4 linked regions of the Homo sapiens genome follow. The protein of the gene in region 4 purifies or fractionates together with the protein of the main gene of each other region. This does not show direct contact. Each region holds a gene or a part of one and is shown on either strand. Other genes may lie near its edges. The genes, in order: ATL2, SFXN5, SLC25A23 and SLC22A6.

Region 1 (3,858 bases), on a different chromosome or scaffold from region 4:
GGATATAAAAGTTGTATTTCACTGAGTACATTAAGGGCAGCTCAATTCCTCGGTCTAACTTCCAGCAAAATGTAAATCTGAAAGACAGGAGTTCCTAGGATCTAAGACTTCAGTAGAGAAGGTAAGGGAGCAATTCTCTGTGCTGCCTGGGAAACCCCCAATCTAGCTTTGACAGGAACCAATAACTGGAAGACTCCCCAAAGTCGCATTCTCTTTATGGCAGAGGCTCCCAACAGAATCCAAGTACAATAGTCATTTGATGAGTAATCTCTGGCCAAGTGAGAAGATGGCTACCAGATGCACAGCAACTCAAGCTAATTTTCATCCTCACTCCACGACTATCACACGAATGGAAAAAACCTGAGATGCGCAGATCCATTCTGGTCAAGTTAGAGGAAAGGAGGGAATCCAGGACATGAATGTTTAGGCTAAAGCTTAAAAGTGTGAAATGGACTTAAATCCTGTAGAGAATTGTCTTCTTTGAGTAAAGCACTCTTTTCTGACAAGAAATGTAAGAAAGCCAATGGTCTAGATTTTATAACTTTTTAAAAGTAAGCTGTCTTTAATTTCAGAAAATCTGCTATTATACAACAAATTATTTTTTCATTCATAAAAAACAGTCCACAGCATTCATAAAACAGGGTGGCAGAAGAAATAAAAAGACACTTTTCAGGTGGATTCTTTAAGAACAGATAAGTTAGCAATTTAATACAGATGAAAACAAATACAATCCATATAAAAACAGAATCTGAATGGGAGTGGGAGCGAAGATGTATCAACCAAAGTAAATTCAGAGTTTTCACACATGCAACTCAACACCTGCATTCTCTTCGCTTAAAAAGCAAACTAAGGGCCGGGCGCGGTGGCTCACGCCTGTAATCCCAACACTTTGGGAGGCCAAGGCAGGCGGATCACAAGGTCAGGCGATTGAGACCATCCTGGCTAAAACGGTGAAACCCCATCTCTACTTAAAATAGAAAACATTAGCCGGGAATGGTGGCACGCACCTGTAGTCCCAGCTACTCAGGAGGCTGAGGCGGGAGAATCACTTGAACCCAGGAGGTGGAGGTTGCAGTGAGCCAAGATCGCACCACTGCACTCCAGCCTGGGTGACAGAGAGAGACTCCGTCTCAAAAAAGAAACAAACAAAACTAGGTACTTTAATCGGTGTTCACAAAGAAGACCACAAAAGTACTGAAAAAATGCTAGCCTTACATATACCACCAAAAAAAAAAAAAGAGAGAGAAAGAAATTAACAATCCCCATCTACAACTAGGCTAATCATAGGTTTTCCCTTATAGAGACAGACACAGAAAAGTAACTTTTTACAAGCTTAGTTTTGAGGTACAATGCCTTAGAGCTCTCAACTGGGGTGTTTCCTGCTCATGCTCTTTTCACTATAAACAAATGTGGTTTATGAAGTGGAATACATACTTGAAAAATTCCTTAAAAAAGAATCACAAGTTTCATTTTATATATACAACAAATTTTTAATTATGTACTGAAAATAAATTACAGGAAATAACTTTAAAATGCAACAGAGGACAAAGTCACAATAAACATTCCCATTGAATTCCCTTGGTGGGCGGGGGGGGGGTGAGATTGCAGTGCTCAAGATAAATATCACAAATATATCAAAAACTTCAAATTGTCTATGCATTCACACACTGACATGAGCCACAAACATTCCTTTCACAGGGACAGTACTTATTTAGCCTACCACAGGACCAGATTTTGCCATAAACTACAAAACTTTTAATACAAAATCGTATTTATATATTTATAAGTCATATACATGCCCTATCTGTGATTTTAGAAAATAAAAGCTACACACTGTACAGACACTCTTAACTCATAGCTGTAGGCAACATTTTTGGATGGAATTTCTTCCCCAATAAAATTAATGGCATATTTTATATACATGAAGGCTAAACTGCAAAAAGACAGTTCAGTTTCCCAGATATGCATCTCCTTTTAGGGCAAGTTTATAAATTTAAAAAGGCAAGACAAATGTACACCTCAGAATTACTTTCTTAGCTACAAGAGTTGCCATGTAATTTCTGTGAAGTTTCTGATACATGCATTGATGTAATACTGGTATTGAAGGCAGTAAAGCAATATATACTTTTAATGTAGTGGCTCAATAAAGGCTTCATTGTCTTTCCAATCTGGTTCTTGAAACAGTGATTCATAAATTCTCTAAAAATTAAAATTTCAATGGGACACTGTGTTAAAGAGACTCTAAATAGATTTCTGAAAATATTTCCCTGAAATATCCTTTTACATAAGACAAATTCACTAACATTAGATTAAGTAAAAAGAAATAAAAGAGTTAAACATGGCACAAAGGTGCATGATTAACCAATGCTCCTCAGTCCATCTGCATGTCTTAGGAGCCATTAAAAGAATGCTTAAAACTAACAAACAATCTTCACACTCTGTGGCAGCCATCTGTGAAGCCAGTTACACTAAACTACTTCTACAGTTGATTGTAAACTTTGGTTTATTTTTATTTGAGTTCTCATTGTACAGCAAGCATGAAAAAAAAAGAGAGTGGAGTCCGTGAGGAGATGAACTGTCAGTCTGTCTTTAATCTGGCATGATGAGACACCTGGTCAGTCAGGCCTGCTTTGATAGAGTTTGTTACAGACTGCCTTATGTTTTCCTCCATCAAATTATCACCCAGGGGCTTCAATACCTGTGGTATGAGAAATGTGCAAAACAAACAAAAACATGAGGTAAAAAAAGAGTTACATATAAAAATAGATATAAAAATTCAATTCAAAGCAATGATGAAAATAACCAGGAATATGGGAAATAAAAAGATGCTTCTCTCAAAAAAACTTATGATGCTACTAGACATTTTATAATGCAACAAAAATTACTTTCCTCTTATTCAAACCATTTACAATTCCTATGAGATGGATGTGCAATTCCATACCCTATATGCAGCATCAAATCTGGTATGTATACAGCATTTATGCAGACCGGCCCAGACGGTCCTGCTTATTGTCCTACATGTGTAAGTGTGAACACTTCAGATAGAGAAAAAGGTTAAAAATACTGTCTAATTTTTCTTCTTGTTATTGTTGGATGACAGTCTCTGTCGCTGTGCTGATGAAAGAGCACGGTGAACCATTCGACGTCTAGTAACTTCAAACAGTTTGGAAAACACCTAAAACATGAAGTGATTTGTTAGGAGAATGAATCAGAGTGCCTCGAAGCTAAAGAGTTTAAGACTACAAGAATTTGAGACTGTAGGTTTCTCACCTTCCTGGGACTCCTCTGAAGCAAAAGAAAAGAGAAATGCAAAGAAATTTAGACAAGGTTTGTTGACACAGCACAGATCTCTGACTAGCTGATTACCTTACCTAAACTATACTGAAAATGATTTTATACACTTTAGATTCTTCCATTTAATTGTTTTGTAATAATGGTACCTCCAAAATCCTAGAATCAATGCTGTTTAAGAGATGAATATTTCTCAAAAGAAGATATTGTACAATTATTGAAAATTATATTGCAGAAAATGATCCAAAATTTTAAAATAGCTAATTTTTTCTTAAAAGTGAAGTTGCGATAGCTTTGCATCCATCTTCTATTAGAAGATATCAAAGAAACATCAAGTAGTGAGATTGAGATAAAAATTTAAATAGAATAAATATCCAAACATAAACTTCCCAATCGGATCTGAATAGAGCATTTCTCTAAAGAGTAAACACAAAATCCAAATTAATATAGTGGGTCACTTTATAAAATAACATCATTACAAGAAAAGTCAATATCCAATCAACTTTCTTCAAAAAAAATGGTCTGCTTCTTCGGTCTTCAAGTTTATAGCCAAAACAAACATGGACC
Region 2 (7,038 bases), on a different chromosome or scaffold from region 4:
CAGAAGTGGGGGCTGTGCCTGTCTTTACTCCCTGTTGACTCTCCAAGGCTCAGCACAGTGCCTGGCAGTTAAGAGGTGCTTAATGAAGATTTGTTATATACATGAATATCCTGGAGACAATTCAGTAGGGCTTTGCGGACTTGAATTAAATTGACTTGTAAGGTTGTGACTGGGGAGGTGGACCAACTTTTCTCCAAATTGTCCCTTAGGGATCTTACAAAATTGCAAGTGGTGTCATGTTTGACAGTGTAAGGTTCATCAGTGCTGAGACATCCCAGAGTTGGGGTGTCTCTAAGGAGGTGAGTCTAAAGACACAAAGGTTGGCTACATATGTACTGGGTTGATGAGCTCCTTTAGGGCCCAGCCCACATCTCTGTGTCCTGCCCTGGCATGTAATAGTTGTGTAATATATATGCTCATAGTACCTTGTGCTGGCCTGACAGAAGCCTGCTTCAAGGTGGTTGATAATCCAGGGTTCATTCCCAGCACCCATGCCAGGGACATGACCCTTATTCCCCAATTAATCTCACCGCTTTCTGCAGGATTTGTTACCAAGGTCTTTCCTTATTCCCTGGAGTCGCTCTAGAACTCCTCTTTATTCCCTCAAGTGTCTCCCTGTGCAAGAGGACGGGCAGAAAGAGGGTGGAGGGTGTGGAGGGTCAGAGTGTGAAGAAAGGGTGATGAGTGTTGGTGGTCTGTGACCATCTTTCTCCCCATAAGATGGTGACGATAGCCAAGCATCATTCCAGCCTTTTTGTGTATTGACTTACTGAATTTTCACAACAACCCTGTGAAGCAGGTGCAATGATCTCCAATTTATGGGTAAGAAAACTACAGCACACAAACAGATTAAGTAAATTCCCAGGCAGTCTGTCTCCAGAGTTCATGTTTGTTTGTTGGTTTGTTGTCAACTTTTTATTATGGAAGTTTACAAACATACTAATCTGGAGACAGTTGTCAGTAAACCCCTATGCACCCATCATCCAGCTTCAACAGTTGCCAACTTAAAGCCGGCCTTGTTTCATCTATGCACCCACCCCCCACAACCCAATCAATGAATTACTCTGAAGCAAAGGCCAAACATCCCATCATTTCATTGAACCCACTAGTAGGTATCTCTAAAAAATAAGGACTCTTTGGTTAGCTTTTTAAAAATTTTTTTATTTTGGAATAATTTTAGAGAAGTCAAAAGACAACAAACAATTCCTGCCTAGCCCTCACCCATTGTCCTCTGTTATCATCTTGCATTGCCACAGTACATTTTTCAAAACTAAGAAACTAACATTGGTACATTATCGTTAACTACACTCCAGACTTCATTGAATTTTACTACTTTTTTTTACACTAATGTCTCCTTTCTGTCCCAGGATCCCATCCAGGAACATGTTACATTTAGTCATCATGTCTCTTTAGCCTCCTCTGGTCTGCGGCAGTCATAGTACCTGGGATAGTTTCTCAGACTTTGCTTGTTTTTGATGACCTTGACAATTTTGGAAGATATTTTATAGAGTGTCCCTCAACTTGGGTTGCCTAATGTCTTTCTTTTGGGTTTTGAGGTAAGAATATCACAGAGGTGAAATGCTCTCTTTATCACATGATATTGGAGGGTTTTTTGATTTGTTTAACATAACCATGTCCTTAACACACCTAAAATCATTATTTGTTTTTTCTTTTTTTTTAGAGACAGGGTTTCTGTCTGTCACCCACAATAGAGTACAGTGGAACAGTAATTAATGGCTCACTGCAGCCTTGAGCGCCTGGGCTCAAGCAATCCTCTGGCCTCTACCTCCAGAGTAGCTGGAACTACAGGGGTGTGCCACCATGCGTGGCTATATGTATTTTTTGTTTGTTTGTTTTCTTTCTGTTTTTTCTTTTCTTTTCTTTTTTTTTGTAGAGACAGGTGTCTTGCTATTTTGCTGAGGCTGGTATCAAACCCCTGGCCTCTAATGATTGTTCTGCCTGGCCCTCCCAAAGTGCTGGGATTTACAGGCATGAGCCACCATGCCTGGCCCATTAATTCTTAATATCATCAAGTAACCAGTCGCTATTCATATTTCCCTGACCATCACTTAATTTATTTGTAGTTGATTTGTTTGAATCAGGATCCCATAAGTCCCACATATTATTACCTTTGGGTATTTCTCTTTTGTATCTTTTATTTTTTTTTTTTGGAGACAGAGTCTCTCTCTGTCGCCCAGGCTGGAGTGCAGTGGCATGATGTCAGCTCACTGCAACCTCCGCCTCCCGGGTTCAAGTGATTCTCCTGCCTTAGCCTCCTGAGTAGCTGGGATTACGGGCGCATGCCACCATGCCTTGCTAATTTTTGTATTTTTAGTAGAGATGGGGTTTCACCATGTTGGCCAGGCTGGTCTCAAACTCCTGACCTCAGGTGATCCACCCGCCTCGGCCTCCCAAAGTGCTGGGGTTACAGGCGTGAGCTACCACACCCGGCCTCTTTTGTATCTTTTAATCTGTTAGTTCTGTCTTCCTTTTTTCCCTTCCTATTGAAGAAGCAGTTGTTCGTCCCTGTAGAATTCCCCACCTTCTCAATGTTGCTGATGGCATCTCTGTGGTAGTGGTTAGCATGTTCCTTTATCCCTTGTTTCTCCTGTAAACTTAAAGTCTATGCATTTAACCACTACTCCAGCTGCCTAGTGAAAGGGAGGAGATGACAGCACAGCACCCAGGGAACCTCTGAGACCTGCTTTGCTTCCTTTCCTCTTCCTTTTCTGGTCATTTCCTCTCCTGAACTCACTGTTTTTCCTTCCGGCCCAGACACCATGTTTGCCATGTTGGGGCCCCAGGACAGGAAACAAACACACATACTTTCTCCCATTTGTGTTTCAGTCCATCTGTAAATAAATTGTTGTCCAGGACCAGGCGCGGTGGCTCATGCTTGTAATCCCAGCACTTTGGGAGGCTAAGGCGGGCAGATCACTTGATGACAGGAGTTCGAGATCAGCCTGGCCAACATGGTGAAACCTGTCTCTACTAAAAAATACAAAAAATAGCCCTTCAAGATTCCCCCACATGGCCAGGCACAGTGACTCATGCCTGTAATCCCAGCACTCTGGGAGGCCAAGGCGGGCAGATCACTTGAGGTCAGGAGTTCAAGACCAGCCTGGCCAACATGGCAAAACCCTGTCTCTACAAAATACAAAAATTATGTGAGCATGGTGGCAGGCGCCTATAATCCCAGCTACTCAGGACTGAAGCAGGAGAATTGCTTGAACCCGGGAGGCAGAGGTTGCAGTGAGCCGAGATTGCACCATTGCACTCCAGCCTGGGCAACAAGAGCGAAACTCTATCTCAAAAAAAAAAATTGTTGTCCAGGTGCAGTTGGCTCATGCCTGTAATCCCAGCACTTCGAGAGGCCAAGGCAGGAGGATTGCTTGAGGCCAGGAGCTTGAGACCAGCCTGGACAACATAGTGAGACCCCATGTCTACAAAAAATTGAAAAACTAGCTCGGCGTGGTAGCATGCACCTGTAGTCCCAGCTACTTGGGAGGCTGGGGCAGGAGGATCCCTTGAGTCCAGAAGTCTGAGGCTGCAGTGAGCTATGATCACACAACTGCACTCCAGCTGGGCAACAGAGTGAGACCCTGTCTCAGAAAGAAGGGAAGAAGTTTTTTAACAACTTCTGGCGAGGTGTGGTGGCTCATGCTTGTAATGCCAGCACTTTGAGAGGCCAAGGTGGGCAGATTGCTTGATCCCAGAAGTTTGAGACCAGTCCAGGCAACATGGCGAAACCCCGTCTCTACAAAAAATATAAAAATTATCCAGGTGTGGTGACACATGCTTGTAGTCCCAGCCACTCTAGAGGGTGAGGTGGGAGAATCACCCGAGTCCAGGAAGTGGAGGTTGTAGTGAGCTATGATCGTGCCACTGCACTCCAGCCTGGGTGACAAAGTGAGACTGTGTCTCAAAAATAAAACAAAAATTCCTTGCTCCTTTGGAAGTCTCACTTATCTGCTGAGATGACTGGGGGTATGAGTGTGCTGGGGACCAAGGCCTAGTGGGGCAGAGCAGGCTGGTTGCACAGGGCTCCCTCTGGGGTATGGAGAGCTTGCTGGGCAGACAAATGCTTTCTTCACTTCAAGGTTGGGAGATTTGTGTGGGCTGAGAGTTGGGAGGCAGGGGGGATATGTCTCATAGTTTGCTTGAAATAAAGTTCTAAAATCACAGTACCTTGCAGGTGGTTATATATTTTAATCATTTACTTCCTATAGGCGAGACAGTGAGTTTTTTCTAGTGCTGCTCCTGGGCTGGTTTGTGCAGTGGAGAGGGGTCATAATTTCCAAGAGTCACACTGGGCAGGTTTTAAAATAGACACTGATGCCTGGAGGCCACACCCAGAGCAATAGAATCAGAATCCCTGGGTGTATGGCCTGGTTTTTGAAGTACCCAGGTGGTTCAGGGTGCAGCTGATTCAGGACTACTGGGCTGGCCCAGCCTTTCTGCTTTGGGCTGTAGGTTCAGCGAGTATATTATTCCTAATCGAAGAGCAGTAATTTGGAGGTCTGGTGTGTGTAGTTGCGGGGCGGTGTCAGCTTCTTCTGGGATCTTTGCCCTCTGCTGCTGCTCCCAAGGCCTGCTCTTCCCTGGGGGGCTTGCAGATGGGAGAGAGCTGGCTGGTGGAGGTGGGAAGGCAGCTGCTGCTGTAGGCCCTGGCTCCTGCTGAGAATTAGCTGACTCACCTTTCTTATGAAGGGAAAGAGAAGGAATCACTTGGCTGACTCATTCTTCCAGTAAAGAAAAAGGGGAGGAAAAACATCCACCGATTGTGCGATTGGGTAAAGATGGGAGCTGAATTTGGGAGGGAGGCTATACATTTTGAACTATTGAGAAAATAAAAATGAACTGAGACTGAGAAAGTATAACCTTCCTTGCCATTCATCAGACAGGGAGGACAGACACAGAGCCAGCTGCAAAGAAAGAATGTTTCTCACGAGGACCCACAGGATCTATAAAGTATCGAACAACCTTCTTCCAGTAACCACCTCTTTCATACTCATGTCTCACTCTATAAGGTCCTAGACTGCCAGGAACTTTGCTGTTTAAGTCATATCATTAGGAATGAACCATCTACCTCTTGATTGGCAGGTCTAAGTCACTTTGCCTCGGAGAATCAACCCATAGCTGCAAATAAGGGGTTTCTGGTCACAACGTTTCTCATTAATCTTAACTTTATAGTTTTTAAGGAAACAAGACCCTGAGTGGTTGGTCCAGACCTATGATGACTCCTTTTCACACAGTCTTGCTTTGCTTGGAGCCTATTGAAGCACTGCTTCATTTACATTTTACTCTATCTTCCTTAAATTATATACCAAATATTTTTCTTTGTTTGGCAAGGCACCCCATAATTCCTCTGCTGTGGTGCTTTTCTTTGTTGAGTGAGTCAGTAAATCTGACTTGGTCAGACTATAGGTTTGTCTCTATAGTGGGTGGGGTGGGGGTCTTAGGGCAATCTGTACCTGACATTTCCAATTCAGAGTCTCTTTCTTGAATCTCAGTCCAAATGTTTGCTGAAAAATTATATCTGGAAGTCCCTTTAAATATCTCAGACTGATATGACCAATACAGAGTTTTTATCTTCTTTCCACTTAATCAGTATGCTTCTTCCTGTCCCTATTCTGGTTAACAAACATTCATGTCTCACTAGAAAGTGAGGCATCATCTGTGGCTGCTCTTCCTCATTTCCCCACAGTCGGTCAGCCTTGCTACCTCCAGGACCTAGCACAGTGCTGGGCACACAGTAGATCCTCGGTAGTGGGTTGAATGATGAATGAATGAAGAGACCACAGGAGTCTGGTGCAGCTTCTGATCCTAAGCTTTATGCTTTCATCCTCTTGCATATACCCTCCTCTGCTAGGTAAACTCATCCATCCCTTGGTCCCAGCTCCTCTGGGACACCTCCTTGACTTAAACTAGGAAGACATAGGAAGAACTCTGTGTGTCCCCAGTATACTTCGCGATGCTTCATTTAAACTCTGATCAGTGTTTTGTAGTTACTTGTTTATAGTTATTAGTCTGTTTTGATGGGCTGTGAGCTCTTTGAGGGCTTGTTCATTTGGTGTCTGTCCCCTGAGCCTAGCTCATTAGGAGTTTGTAGGTGTCTGTGGAGCAAAATGCCTTATCTGGGAGTCTCCCCCAGTAGCTATGGTCGAAAGTGACACAAGAAGGCTGGCAGGGCTGGGACAGGATGAAGACCGTGCCAGACCATAGGACAAGTCAAAGGCTGAAGTTTCTGCTGGACCATCTTCAAGAAGTTGCTTCACTCAGGCCATTCTACTTCCAGGTTCTCTCCTCTTCCCCTGCTCATCCTCTTTCCTCCTTGGACCACTAGCTGCCATACTGTTACCCTTTCCTAATCCTGCCCTCCCTTCAAAGCCCAGCCCAGCTCTACCCCACCCAGAAGCCTTGAGGCCATTGGCTGCTCATCAGCCCACTCATGGATTCCTGTGGCAGAAGACCCTTCCTTCCAGATATGTAAGGAGACTTCGAGCCAGGGAGGATAAGGAAGGAACATTCAATAGCCCATGTCCTTCAGGAGCTCTTAATCAAGTATAATACTTAAAATATCAGTTCATGTTTTACTTTATTTTATTTTTGGAGACAGGCTCTCACTCTGTCACCCAGGCTGGAGTGCAGTGGCATGATCATAGCTCACTGCAGCCTCGAACTCCTGGGCTGAAGTGGTCCTCCTACCTCAGCCTCCTAAGTAGCTGGGACTACAGGTGTATACCACCATGCCTGGCTAATTTTTAAAATTTTTTGTAGAGATGGGGTTTCACTGTGTTGCCCAGGCTGATCTCAAACTCCTGGGCTCAAGTGATCCTATCACTTCAGCCTCCCAAGTAGCTGGGATTATAGGAGCAAGCCACTGTGACTGGCTTGCATTTTACTCTAAATATGTATTTTTAAATGTAATATCATTTCTGTATATTAGGTATAATATTGATTTTTTTAATTTCAAAAGCAATTTAAAGATCTGGAAATATAAATCATACATAAGCCTATTACCCAGAGGCAATCTCT
Region 3 (7,038 bases), on a different chromosome or scaffold from region 4:
AGGAGCAGTGGCTTGTGCCTGTAATCCCAGCACTTTGGGAGGCCGAGGTGGGAGGATTGCTTGAGCCCAGGAGTTCGAGACCAGTCTCTATAAAACAATTTAAAAATTAGCCAGGTGGCCAGGCACGGTGGCTCACGCTTGTAATCCCAGCACTTTGGGAGGCCGAGGCGGGTGGATCACAAGGTCAAGAGATCGAGACCATCCTGGCCAACATGGTGAAACCCCATCTCTACTAAAAATACAAAAAATTAGCCAGGCATGGTGGCGGGCACCTGTAATCCCAGCTGCTTGGGAGGCTGAGGCAGGAGAATGGCATGAACCTGGGAAGCGGAGCTTGCAGTGAGCTGAGATCGTGCCACTGCACTCCAGCCTGGGTGACAGAGCAAGACTCTGTCTCAAAAAAAAAAAAAATAGCCAGGTGTGGTGGTGCACACCTGTAGTGCCAGCTACTCAGGAGGCTGAGATGGGAGAATTGCTTGAGCCCAGTACGCAGAGGTTTCAGTGAGCTGTGATCATGCCAATGCACTCCAGCTTCAGCAACAGAGCAAGATCCTGTCTCAAAAAAAAAAAAAAAGAAAGAAAGAAAGACAGAAAGAAGACACAGTCTTATTATTTAATGCATTCTTTACCCAAAAAGGGACTTTAAAAGTCTAAGAGGTTTTAGAAACCTTGGAGTTTCAAAATCTGTGTTTGTCCCTTAAAGGCTCCGAGAAGTCTCTCAGTAAAGTGATTTAACTTTTTTTGTTTTTAACCCAGTGCTGGCCACATTAATCTAGTCTTTAGAACTTTTTTTTTTCTTTTTTTTTGAGACAGAGTCTCACTCTGTCACCCAGGCTGGAGTGCAGTGGTGTGATCTCAGCTCACTCCAACCTCTGCCTCCCAGATTCAAGCAATTCTCCTGCCTCAGCCTGCCGAGTAGCTGGGATTACAGGTGTGCGCCACCACGCCAGGCTAATTTTTGTATTTTTAGTAGAGACGGGGTTTCACTATGTTGGCCAGGCTGGTCTTGAACTCCTGACGTCAAGTGATCCGACCACCTCGGCCTCCCAAAATGCTGGAATTGCCAGGTGCAGTGGCTCACACCTGTAATCCCAGCACTTTGGGAGGCTGAGGGGGGTGGATCACAAGATCAAGAGATCAAGACCATCCTGGCCAACATGGTGAAACCCCATTTCTACTAAAAATACAAAAAATAGCTGGGCGTGGTGGTGGGCACCTGTAATCCCAGCTACTCGGGAGGCTGAGACAGGAGAATCGCTTGAACCCAGGAGGCGGAGTTTGCTGTGAGCCAAGATCGCGCCACTGCCCTCCACCCTGGGTGAGAGAGCGAGATTTCATCTCAAAAAAAAAAAAAAATGCTGGGATTACAGGCATGAGCCACCACACCCGGCCGTCTTTAGAACTTCTTTTCAACAGATTGATCTTAATAATAACCCATTAAACATCTATTTGGCAAGTGCTGTTCTAGACCCAAAAGAAGGCTTCTAAAATTTCAAAGGCAATAATGTTAAGTACTTGCCTATTTTACCCAGTCTGTGCCTGGGCTAGGCATTACTAATCCATCACAGCACTGAGTCCTGCTCAACACAATTCCAGTTTCAGGCAGCAATTTCTGGTGGATTAGAATTGGCATAGGAAATGAAACCTATAAGCCTCTCCCAGCCGCAAAGCAAAGAAGGTCTTGTTCTTACAGTCACCTTGGCAGAAGGCTTCAGAAGGGATTAGCCACCCTAAAGTCTTCAGGTGCACAGTTCTAGATTCACATACAGCTGTGAATGTTGGTTCTCACCTTTATTTTGTAGCTTTGGGCAAGTAACTTCCCGAGCCTCAGTTTCTTTTCTATAAAATAGAGATAATAGGGCCGGGCATGGTGGCTCACTCCTGTAATCCCAGCACTTTGGGAGGGAGAGGCAGGCAGATCACTTGAGGTCAGGAGTTGGAGACCAGCCTGGCCAACATGGTTAAACCCTGTCTTTACTAAAAATACAAAAATCAGCCGGGTGTGATTGTGTGTGCCTGCAATCCCAGCTACCTGGGAGGCTAAGACAGGAGAATTTCTTGAACCCGGGAGGTGGAGGTTGCAGTGAGCTGAGATTGTGCCGCTGCACTCCAGCCTGGGCGACAGAACGAGACTCCGTCTCAAAAAAAAAGCAAAAAATTAGCCAAGCCTGGTGGCACATGCCTGTAATCCCGGTGGCATAAGCCTGTAATCCCAGCTACACAGGAGGCTGATGCAGGAGAATCACTTGAACCTGGGAGGTGGGGTTGCAGTGAGCCGAGATGGTGCCATTGCACTCCAACCCAGGCGACAGGGTGAGACTGTGTCTCAAAAAATAATAATAAAATAAAAATAAAGATAATTAGCCGGGTGTGGTGGTGCACAGCTGTAATCCTGGCTACTCCAGAGGTTGAAGTAGGGAGGATCACCTGAGCCCAGGAGGCGGAGGTTGCAGTGAGCCGAGATTTCACCACTGCACTCCAGCCTGGGTGTGAGAGCGAGACCCTGTCTCAATAATAATAATAATAGTTTTGGTCTTAGTTTGAGATCCTTCCAAAACAGACCCTGAAACTGGGACGTGAGGACAAGTGATTTATTGGGGAGGTAATGAGACAGGGAGTCAATGCACACAGTATGAGTATGTTAGTTTCCTAGGACTGCTGTAACAAAGTATCACAAACTGGTTGGCTTAAAACAACAGAAAGTTATTGTCTCACAGTTCCAGAGGCCAGAAGTGCAAAATCAAGGTGTCAGCAGAGCCATACTCCCTCTCAAACTTGTTAGGGGAGAATCCTTCCTTCCTTCCTTCTTTCAGTTTCTGCTTGTTCCCAGCAACCCTGGACATTCTTTGGCTTGTAGATACATTCACTCAAATCTCTGCCTCCGCTGTCACCTGGCTGTCTTTCTCCGTGTGTGTCTCTGTCTTTCTCCTCTACGGACACCAGTCATACTGGACTAAGGGTCTACCCTGTTACCCTACTCATCTTAACTAATTAGATCTGCAAAGACCCTATTTCCAAAGAATGTCACCTTCTAAGATACTGGGGGTTAGGACATCAACATGTTCCCCCCCAAAGGAGGGACATGATTCAACCCGTAACAGTATGTTATCAAGCAAGTTACTATTCCTAGCAAATGGAGTTCCAGCCCTCTAGAGATCTGTGGGAGGCAGCATAAGACATGCTGCACCAGAGAGATGAGGGAGCTGGGGTATTGATCCACCAGGTCAGTCTTTTGAAGGTTGCATCTGGAGATGCTAATTTCCCAGGGCTTTCTGCCCATTCCTAAGTGGTCAGAGCCGGCTGGCCTGCGTTCAGAGAAAGTCCACAAGCAAAGTCTTTGGGTAAATGTTGGCAGTAAGAAGTCAGCAGGTCTGAATTGGAGTGGGAAGGGATGAAGGTGGTGTACTCACAGCATCTACCACAGGCAGTGTCGTTGGAGAGTGTTTTTTTGTTCATTTGTTTGTTTTTGAGACAGTCTTGCTCTTATTGCCCAGGCTGGAGTGCAGTGGTGTGATCTTGCCTCGCTGCAACCTCCGCCTCCCCGGTTCAGGCGATTCTCCTGCCTCAGCTTCCTGAGTAGCTGGGATTACAGGTGCCTGCCACCACACCGGCTAATTTTGGTATTTTTAGTAGAGATGGAGTTTCGCCATATTGGCCAGGCTGGTCTCGAACTCCTGACCTCAAGTGATCCACCCATCTCAGCCTCCCAAAGCACTGGGATTACCAGTGTGAGGACGCCAGGCCCGACCTTTTTTCTTTTTGATACTGAGTCTCACTCTTGTCGCCCAGGCTGGAGTGCATCACGGCTCACTACAGCCTTGAATTCCTGGGTTCAAGCAATCCTCCCACTTCAGCCTCTTGAGTAGCTGGGACCACAGGCATGCACCATCACATCCAGTTTTTTTTTGTTTGTTTGTTTGTTTGTGTGTTTGTTTGTTTTTGTAGAGACAGAGTCTTGCTATGTTTCCGAGGCTGGTCTCAGGCTCCTGGGCTCAAACGATCCTCTTGCCTCGGCCTCCCAAAGTGCTGGGATTACAGGCGTGAGTCACCATGCCTGGCCTTTTGTTGCTGTTGCTGTTTTTAATTTATTCTTTACCCTTCTTGCAAGCAAACAAGTTATAAACTTAGTGTCTTAGAACAACACGAATGTATATCCTTACAGTTCTGGAGGTCAGAAATCCAAAATGGGGTTCTTACTGGGCTTTATAAAATCGAGATGTTGGCAGGGCTGCGTTCCTTCTGGATGCTCCAGGAGGAAATCTGTTTCGTTGCCTTGAAAAAGCTTCTAGAGGCCGCCTGCACTCCTTGGCTTGTGGTCCCTTCTTCCATCTTCAAAGCCAGTAGCATAGCATCTTCCAATCTCTCTCTCGCTTCTGCTTCTGTCTTTACACCTACTTTTCTAACTCTTAGAAGGGCCCTTGTGCCGGGCATGGTGACTCATGCTTGTAATCCCAGCACTTTGGGAGACCGAGGCAGGTGGATCACCTGAAGTCAGGAGTTTGAGACCACTCTGGCCAACATGGTGAAACCCCATCTCTACTAATAATACAAAAATTAGCTGGGCGTGATGGCACACGCTTGTAATCCTAGCTACTTCGAGGCTGAGGCAGGAGAATCGCTTGAAGCCAGGAGGCGGAGGTTGCAGTCAGCCGAGATTGCACCATTGCACTCCTGCCTGGGCAACGAGAACGAAACTCCGTCTCTGAAAAAAAAAAGAAGGGGCCTTGTGCCAGGCATGGTGGCTCATGCCTGTAATCCCAGCACTTTGGGAGGCCGAGGGGGAAGGATCGCTTGAGCCCAGGAGTTCGAGACCAGCCTGAGCAACATAGTGACACTCCATCTCTGTAAAAAGAAAAATAATTAGGCCAGGTACTGTGGCTCATTCCTGTAATCCCAGCACTTTGAGAGGCTGAGGCAGGCGGATCACAAGGTCAGGAGATTGAGACCATCCTGGCCAGCACGGTGAAACCCTGTCTCTACTAAAAATACAAAAAATTAGCCAGGTGTGGTGGCACGCACCTGTATTCCCAGCTACCCGGGAGGCTGAGGCAAGAGAATCGCTTGAACCAGGGAGGTGGAGATTGCAGTGAGCCAAGATCACACCACTGCACTCCAGCCTGGGCAACAGAGCAAGACTTCATCTCAAAATAATAATAATAATAATTTTTAAAAAAAGAAGGACCCTTGTGATGGCATTGGGCCACTCAGATAATCCAAAATAATCTCATCTCAAGATCCTTAACTGAATCCCATCTGCAAAGTCCTTTGTGTCATCTTGGGTAACATATGCAGAGGTTCCAGAGATTAGGGCATAGTCAGTACAGGGGACCCTTATTCCACCTACCAGAGAGGGTCCAGATGAGGACTGGGTGAGGGGACGCAGGGAAAGGGCTGGCCCGGCCCCTAGGAGGTACCAAGTGCTCAGCTAGTAGCACCTGTCATGGGATACAGAACCGGCCAGCAGGCCTTTGAAGCCAGGGTCCTAGGGTCACCCACCCCAACCCTCCCTACTCCCTTCTCCACTCCAGACTCTGAAGAACTGGTGGCTTCAGCAGTACAGCCACGACTCGGCAGACCCAGGCATCCTCGTGCTCCTGGCCTGCGGTACCATATCCAGCACCTGCGGCCAGATAGCCAGTTACCCGCTGGCCCTGGTCCGGACCCGCATGCAGGCACAAGGTGAGGCCTGGGCGGGAGGATGGGGCAGGGGGAGTCTCATCGCTTGGGCCCCAGCTTCTCCCAAGTAGAGCCCTGGGCTGGGACCCTCCTGGATTTCGATGGGCTTCTCTGGGCCTCCGTTTCCCCATTTGTGACATTGAAATGGGAGTCCTTTACTTTCATGGAGCTGAGGATTAACTAGGATAACAGGTGCAGTGGGTACAGGAAGAGATCCCTTGCAGACTTAGCTGGGATGTCGTTGCTGGCAAATGTCTAGCATTTCCAGGCTGGTAACTTGAACTCTTAATTTGTAAGCCTGGGTTATCGTGAGCGGGAGGCTAGGAACAGGGGTAGGGAGCAGTCAGGGCCAGAGTGGTTATTGTTTTTGTCTGTATTTTTCTTTTATGAATTATTTCCCCCCGTCCCCTCCACCACTACCCTCCCATTCTCCCTGAATCTGTTTTGAGAATTTTCTTGAGAATTTTAGTGTTTGTGTTTTGTGATTTTCACTGGAGATGTGTCAGTGTACAAGACGGACACGGTCCCCACCCTCATAGAGCTCACAGGCCGGAGAGGAAGGAAGATGCTAAATAAATCATTCTGGAATTAAGTATTGATTTAGGGTTGTATAAAGGGGAGAAGGAGGCCGGGCACAGTGGCTCACATCTGTAATCCCAGCACTTTAGGAGGCCAAAGAGGAAGGATCATTTGAGTCCAGGAGTTTGAGACCAGCCCGGGCAACATAGCAAGACCCCATCTTTTTTTAAAAAATGAAGAAATAAATTAGCCAGGCGTGGTGGCAGGTGCCTGTAGTCCAAACTACTTGGGAGGCTGAGGCCGGAGGATCACTTGAGGCTGCAGTGAGCTATGATTATGCCACCACACTCCAGCCTGGGTGACAGAGTGAGACCCTGTCTCAAAAAAGTGGGTGGGAGCCAGGGGTAGTGGCTCACGCCTGCCATCCCAGCACCTTGGGAGGCCTAGGTGGGTGGATCACCTGAGGTCAGGAGTTCGAGACTAGCCTGACCAACATGGCTAAATCCTGTCTCTACTGAAAATACAAAAATTAGCCGGGTGTGATAGCAGGCGCCTGTAATCTTAGCTACTCGAGAGGCTGAGGCAGGAGAATCACTTGAACCCAGCAGGCATAGGTTGCAGTAAGCCAAGTTCGTGCCATCGCACTCCAGCCTGGGCAACAGGAGTGAAAACTCTGTCTCAAAAAAAAAAAAAAAAAAAAGGGCTGGGCATGGTGGCACACGCCTGTAATCCCAGCACTTTGGGAGGCCGAGGTGGGCGGATCACCTGAGGTTAAGAGTTCAAGGGCCGGGTGTGGTGGTTCACGCCTGTAATCCCAGCACTTTGGGAGGCCGAGGCGGATGG
Region 4 (5,909 bases):
GCGTGGGCACCTTGATTGGCTATGTCTACAGCCTGGGCCAGTTCCTCCTGGCTGGTGTGGCCTACGCTGTGCCCCACTGGCGCCACCTGCAGCTACTGGTCTCTGCGCCTTTTTTTGCCTTCTTCATCTACTCCTGGTGCGTGGGGCCTAGGGTTGGAGGTGGTTGCCACAGGAGCCCAGAGGCTGCAAGGGACAGGACATCTCCCAGAGCTCAGCACACATCCCATCCCACAAATGTAGAGAAGGTCAAACCCAGTCCAATGCCTCTGTGTGACAGATAGGGAAACCAAGGCTGTGGGGAGAAGGCTTTGCCCCAGGATATCCAATTCTCTGGCTTCCCCCACTCCGTTCTCCAGCCTGCCTGCTCTGCTCCCCCTACCCGCAACCAAGAGCTGAGCTTCTGGATTGGGGAATATGTCATTACCAAGCTGGGCACTGCCTCGTGGTCCTAGAGAGAGGGATTTGGCAAGGCCCCTGGGTTCCCAACCTTAAATAAAATCCCATCGCAGACCCCTAGAAAGCCCAGCCCCAGCCCCCCACCCAGCTGACTGGAACTGAAGCCATGCTGACACCCACCCCCACCCCCGCTCCCAGGTTCTTCATTGAGTCGGCCCGCTGGCACTCCTCCTCCGGGAGGCTGGACCTCACCCTGAGGGCCCTGCAGAGAGTCGCCCGGATCAATGGGAAGCGGGAAGAAGGAGCCAAATTGAGTATGGAGGTGAGATCCCCTGAGACTTCCCATGATAACCTCCCAGGGCTTCACCCCCAAACCCCAAACCCAGGACCCAGGGCCCAGGGAACTCCTCTAAGTAAGGGATTAGGCTGGGAGGAGCTCCTTGGGAGGATCCCGGGCCCTGAGCTCTGCCGGTCCCAGCAGGTACTCCGGGCCAGTCTGCAGAAGGAGCTGACCATGGGCAAAGGCCAGGCATCGGCCATGGAGCTGCTGCGCTGCCCCACCCTCCGCCACCTCTTCCTCTGCCTCTCCATGCTGTGGTAGGCCCAGAAAGACAGACAGACTGAGACAAAAGGCTGGCTGGGGCAGGAGGAGACACAATGGGTGAAAGAGGCCAGAGAAGAGGGCAGGAAGGTCAGCAGACCTGCTGTGAGAAGCAGTAACCCCACACTAGGGATCATCCTTAGGAACCAGATGCCCCCAGCCTTGACTCAGTCCCAGTCTCCACACGGGACACCAGTCTCCCCATCTTGTCCTTTCACTAGCCCTGTTCCAATGTGGAGACACCTCATCAGGACCAGTGGGCTCCAGAGTCAATAGACTTACATCATGAAGGCAGAGACCAGTCTGGCTTGCAAAATATTCATAGATTTTACTGGCCTGATGGTGCCTGCCAGAAACACAGGCACAGGCAACAAGATGACTAAAACTCATCTCCAAAGAACACTTTGGCCAAGGCCAAAGAAAATCTTCCTTTCCCTTTGCAACACTCCCCATTATCCTTCCTTCCCATCACCATAGCAATCCCATGACAGTTAAGGGAAACATAGTCAGAAGGAACAATCCTGCCAATGAATTATTTGCTTCCAATTTGGGATTTATTCTCAGTCATGGGCTCTAGCCAATAATCTTGAGCTTCGTTTTTTGGGCTCTTGACATCTTAAAAAGCACAACACTCATCCCAGGACCATGGACAGGTCCCAGAAGGCTCTCTCTACTCTCCCAGCTGCCTTGGCCCTGAAGATGGCTTGGGTATGCACCTGCCCTCCCTCAGTCCAGCATCAATTGATAAGATGAAAACTAAACCTATGTAAATCCTACAGAGCAACTAAGTGAAAATTCCCCCAATTAACTGCAACCCTAGTTATCAGAAGATTGGCAAATTTGGAGTATTACAGGACTACCTCAATACTTAAACTCTGCAGTTTAATGATATGGTTAAATGAAGAAATATTAGCCAAGGCAGATTCCAGCTCCTTAAGCAGGGTACCCAATGCAGTTCCCCCACTGTTTTGAAAGAGCACCCCACTTTAAGCCTTCCTAACAAACTCCATACTCCTCTCTTCTCTCTGCTAGGTTTGCCACTAGCTTTGCATACTATGGGCTGGTCATGGACCTGCAGGGCTTTGGAGTCAGCATCTACCTAATCCAGGTGATCTTTGGTGCTGTGGACCTGCCTGCCAAGCTTGTGGGCTTCCTTGTCATCAACTCCCTGGGTCGCCGGCCTGCCCAGATGGCTGCACTGCTGCTGGCAGGCATCTGCATCCTGCTCAATGGGGTGATACCCCAGGGTGAGCACCCACGAGCACCTTGGCCCCTTCTCCTCAGCCCCATCCCCACACATAACCCAATATCTCAGAAGGGAGGGGGCCAATTCCTCCTAGCCTCCACTCCCAAGCTCCTGCTATCCCCCCTTCTTTCTCTCTAGACCAGTCCATTGTCCGAACCTCTCTTGCTGTGCTGGGGAAGGGTTGTCTGGCTGCCTCCTTCAACTGCATCTTCCTGTATACTGGGGAACTGTATCCCACAATGATCCGGTGAGTGGGAGCCTAATGGGAGAATGACAGCCTTTTCCTGGGGAAAGACATTCTTCTGTGCACAGGTCAGACCCCAGAGCTAAATCAAGTACATCCCAGCCCAAAGGCCCCTCCCAACACTCATCATTGCAAGGCACATAGTAGCCACTGAGTACACACCTCATGGCCTAGCTAACACAGGTGTTACTGTCCTCTAAGCCCTTACGGGACCCTAGAAGATCTCAAAAGTAGCCACCAACTGGGGCAGGGTAAGGAACCAAGAAGACACATCTCAGAGACAACAAATTGAAGTCTTCCTTTAATCTCCAAAACACAAATTAGAAGCTGCCACCACATCTACATTCCATCTATAAACCAAGTGATATATCTGAAAGCAAAGGCCACAAACATGAAAGCAATTTCCTATCTCAAGATTCACTCCTGATAATATCCCAGCAATAGGAATAAATATAGTATTGCTTATTTGAGTCCTAAGATGGAGGGCAGTATTTTTGCATTAAGAAACAAGAATGGGGGCCCGGCACGGTGGCTCATGCCTGTAATCCCAGCACCTTGGGAGGCCAAGGCAGGTGGATCACAAGGTCAAGAGATCAAGACCGGCCGGGCACGGTGGCTCACGCCTGTAATCCCAGCACTTTGGGAGGCCGAGGCAGGCAGATCACGAGGTCAGGAGATCGAGACCATCCTGGCTAACAAGGTGAAACCCCGTCTCTACTAAAAATACAAAAATTAGCTAGGCGTGGTGGCAGGCGCCTGTAGTCCCAGCTACTTGGGAGGCTGAGGCAGGAGAATGGCGTGAACCCGGGAGGCGGAGCTTGCAGTGAGCCAAGATGGCACCACTGCACTCCAGCCTGGGCGACAGAGCAAGACTCCATCTCAAAAAAAAAAAAAAAAAAAGAGATCAAGACCATCCTGCAAGACCATCCTGGCTAACCAACATGGTGAAACTCCGTCTGTACTAAAAATACAAAAATTAGCTGGGCATAGTGGCACACACCTGTAGTCCCAGCTACTCAGGAGGCTGAGGCAGGAGAATAGCTTGAACCTGGGAGGCGGAGGTTGCAATAAGCTGACATCGCGCCACTGCACTCCAGCCCCAGCAAGAGAGTGAGACTCTGTCTCAAAAAAATAAAATAAAATAAAATAAAATAAAATAAAATAAAATAAAATAAAATAAACAAGAATGGGATGCAAAATTTACATGAGATAACAAAGAAATGTCAGGCTTCCCTGGGCTACTTGGAGTGGGCCTGTAAGGTCTGCAAAGTGGAACCCTGAGGGTCATGGTCCTGTGCCCTTACCAGATTTCAGATGAAAGAGCAATAATCCGAAGCACTCACTATGTACCAGGCAGTGTCTTAAACTTTTCACAAATATTAATTCATTTAATCTGCATAACAAGCCATTGTGGTAGGCACTATCATTATTCCCATTTACAAACGTGAAAGCTGAGGCAAAGAGAGGTTAAGTGACTTCTCCAAGATCATGCAGCTAACAAATGGTGAAGCATGCATTTGAACCCCAAGCAGTATGTCTCCTGAGTCAATGTTTTTAACCTCTTCTCTCATGAAGAATGTTCTTAACATGCAGATTCCAGCTCCCTCCCCCTAGGGATTCTAATCCAATAGGTGTATGTTGGCTTGTTGCAACTATAACACAATTCCTCCAGGTGATCTGAGAACCATAGGTGTACCACAACTGAATCATTTGACAGCTGCAGAAACTGAAGCCCACGGAGGGAAAGGGGCTTGCCCAAAGTCACACAGCAAGTTAAGGGCAAAGGCAAAATTCAATCTTAAGTCTCCTTATTCTCTGGCCAGAACCCTTTCCAACTTCTCTTTTTCAAAAGATCACCAACAGCTGTGGTGGGGGAGGACCATTTGAGCCCAGGAGTTTAAGACCAGCCCTGGCAACACAGAGACCCTATCTCTACAAGAAAAAAAAAAATCGCCAAATTGGTTTGCTAATCAAATGGGGAAGAGAGGAGGTACCGGGAGTGTCCTGGGGGCTGAGCCTGAGCTGCCACCCTCCAAATGGGACCAGCATCTGGGCATTCATGCTGGAACTCTAACCAACACCCATCTGCTGCGGGCCCTGCAGGCAGACAGGCATGGGAATGGGCAGCACCATGGCCCGAGTGGGCAGCATCGTGAGCCCACTGGTGAGCATGACTGCCGAGCTCTACCCCTCCATGCCTCTCTTCATCTACGGTGCTGTTCCTGTGGCCGCCAGCGCTGTCACTGTCCTCCTGCCAGAGACCCTGGGCCAGCCACTGCCAGACACGGTGCAGGACCTGGAGAGCAGGTGGGCCCCCACTCAGAAAGAAGCAGGGATATATCCCAGGTAACACATGCAGGGTGGGGTGGTATTGAGACTCAAGCCCAGGCTTCCTCTTCTAGCCCAAAGCTCTGTGTCCCTTTGTCCCCAATTGCCTGAGCTTCTCCTAGAATCCTTCCTGGGGATCCCAGCTCCAGGGAGCAGTAGGTATTTGGGGCAGAGAGCAGGTGTCCAGGCATAGCTGAGCGGAGACCCCCTGGGAGCCTCCATATCCCGGCCCTGGCCTGGAGGCTGCATACCCAGAGTGCCATTCTTCTGCCGCCCTGCAGGAAAGGGAAACAGACGCGACAGCAACAAGAGCACCAGAAGTATATGGTCCCACTGCAGGCCTCAGCACAAGAGAAGAATGGACTCTGAGGACTGAGAAGGGGCCTTACAGAACCCTAAAGGGAGGGAAGGTCCTACAGGTCTCCGGCCACCCACACAAGGAGGAGGAAGAGGAAATGGTGACCCAAGTGTGGGGGTTGTGGTTCAGGAAAGCATCTTCCCAGGGGTCCACCTCCCTTTATAAACCCCACCAGAACCACATCATTAAAAGGTTTGACTGCGCACCATCTCTCTGTGTCTCTCTTGTCTCAAAAGGAATGGCCACTCCATTTTAGTCAGCTTCCAGCCCAAGAGGCCATACAGTCCCCTCCCACCCACTCCATCCCCGGGACTTTACAAACCATCCCAGAAAATTAGAAAAGACTCTTGCCTTTGCCCCTTTCTATCCCTCCCTCTTCCCTCCCCCATCCTCTAACCTATTCAAATATTTCTGTGAGATTTAGCTAAATATCTAATGCTCCTCCCTTCCCTGTCAGGCTGGAAACTGACAAGGGCTGAAATGACAGGCTGAAATGAAAGCAGCCAATCAGAGGCTTTGTTTCAAGCTCCTCCCACTCTGAGAGCAGATGGGAACCTCTGACAGCAAAGGAGAAGAAAAAGGACAATAGCTGGCCAGGTGTGGTGGCTCACACCTGTAATCCCAGCACGTTGGGAGGCCGAGGCGGGTGGATCACTTGAGCCAGGAGTTCAAGACCAGCCTGGGCAACATAGCGAGACGCTGCCTCTATTTAAAAAAAAAAAAAAAAAAAAAAAGA

Evidence for each region.
Region 1: the proteins of SLC22A6 (region 4) and ATL2 purify together in Homo sapiens (affinity purification with mass spectrometry; 2 studies listed by BioGRID and IntAct, with this or other methods). This does not show direct contact.
Region 2: the proteins of SLC22A6 (region 4) and SFXN5 purify together in Homo sapiens (affinity purification with mass spectrometry; 2 studies listed by BioGRID and IntAct, with this or other methods). This does not show direct contact.
Region 3: the proteins of SLC22A6 (region 4) and SLC25A23 purify together in Homo sapiens (affinity purification with mass spectrometry; 2 studies listed by BioGRID and IntAct, with this or other methods). This does not show direct contact.

The regions. Positions count from the first base shown.
Region 1 is NC_000002.12:38,293,416-38,297,273, forward strand, and holds the end of ATL2 (atlastin-2), read right to left. Parts: intron 3,286-3,858; coding exon of another isoform or gene 3,271-3,285; intron 3,176-3,270; coding exon of another isoform or gene 3,068-3,175; exon of another isoform or gene 2,699-3,067; coding exon 2,579-2,698; 3' UTR 539-2,578; downstream 1-538. UniProt on the Homo sapiens protein: Atlastin-2 (ATL2) is a membrane-anchored GTPase that mediates the GTP-dependent fusion of endoplasmic reticulum (ER) membranes, maintaining the continuous ER network. It facilitates the formation of three-way junctions where ER tubules intersect.
Region 2 is NC_000002.12:73,061,691-73,068,728, reverse strand, and holds part of SFXN5 (sideroflexin-5), read left to right. Parts: intron 1-7,038. UniProt on the Homo sapiens protein: Mitochondrial amino-acid transporter. Transports citrate. Does not act as a serine transporter: not able to mediate transport of serine into mitochondria.
Region 3 is NC_000019.10:6,442,792-6,449,829, reverse strand, and holds part of SLC25A23 (mitochondrial adenyl nucleotide antiporter SLC25A23), read left to right. Parts: intron 1-5,528; coding exon 5,529-5,679; intron 5,680-7,038. UniProt on the Homo sapiens protein: Electroneutral antiporter that mediates the transport of adenine nucleotides through the inner mitochondrial membrane. Originally identified as an ATP-magnesium/inorganic phosphate antiporter, it also acts as a broad specificity adenyl nucleotide antiporter.
Region 4 is NC_000011.10:62,976,069-62,981,977, reverse strand, and holds the end of SLC22A6 (solute carrier family 22 member 6), read left to right. Parts: coding exon 1-136; intron 137-594; coding exon 595-718; intron 719-874; coding exon of another isoform or gene 875-877; coding exon 878-993; intron 994-2,029; coding exon 2,030-2,244; intron 2,245-2,381; coding exon 2,382-2,490; intron 2,491-4,590; coding exon 4,591-4,794; coding exon of another isoform or gene 4,795-4,833; intron 4,834-5,096; coding exon 5,097-5,184; 3' UTR 5,185-5,381; downstream 5,382-5,909. UniProt on the Homo sapiens protein: Secondary active transporter that functions as a Na(+)-independent organic anion (OA)/dicarboxylate antiporter where the uptake of one molecule of OA into the cell is coupled with an efflux of one molecule of intracellular dicarboxylate such as 2-oxoglutarate or glutarate.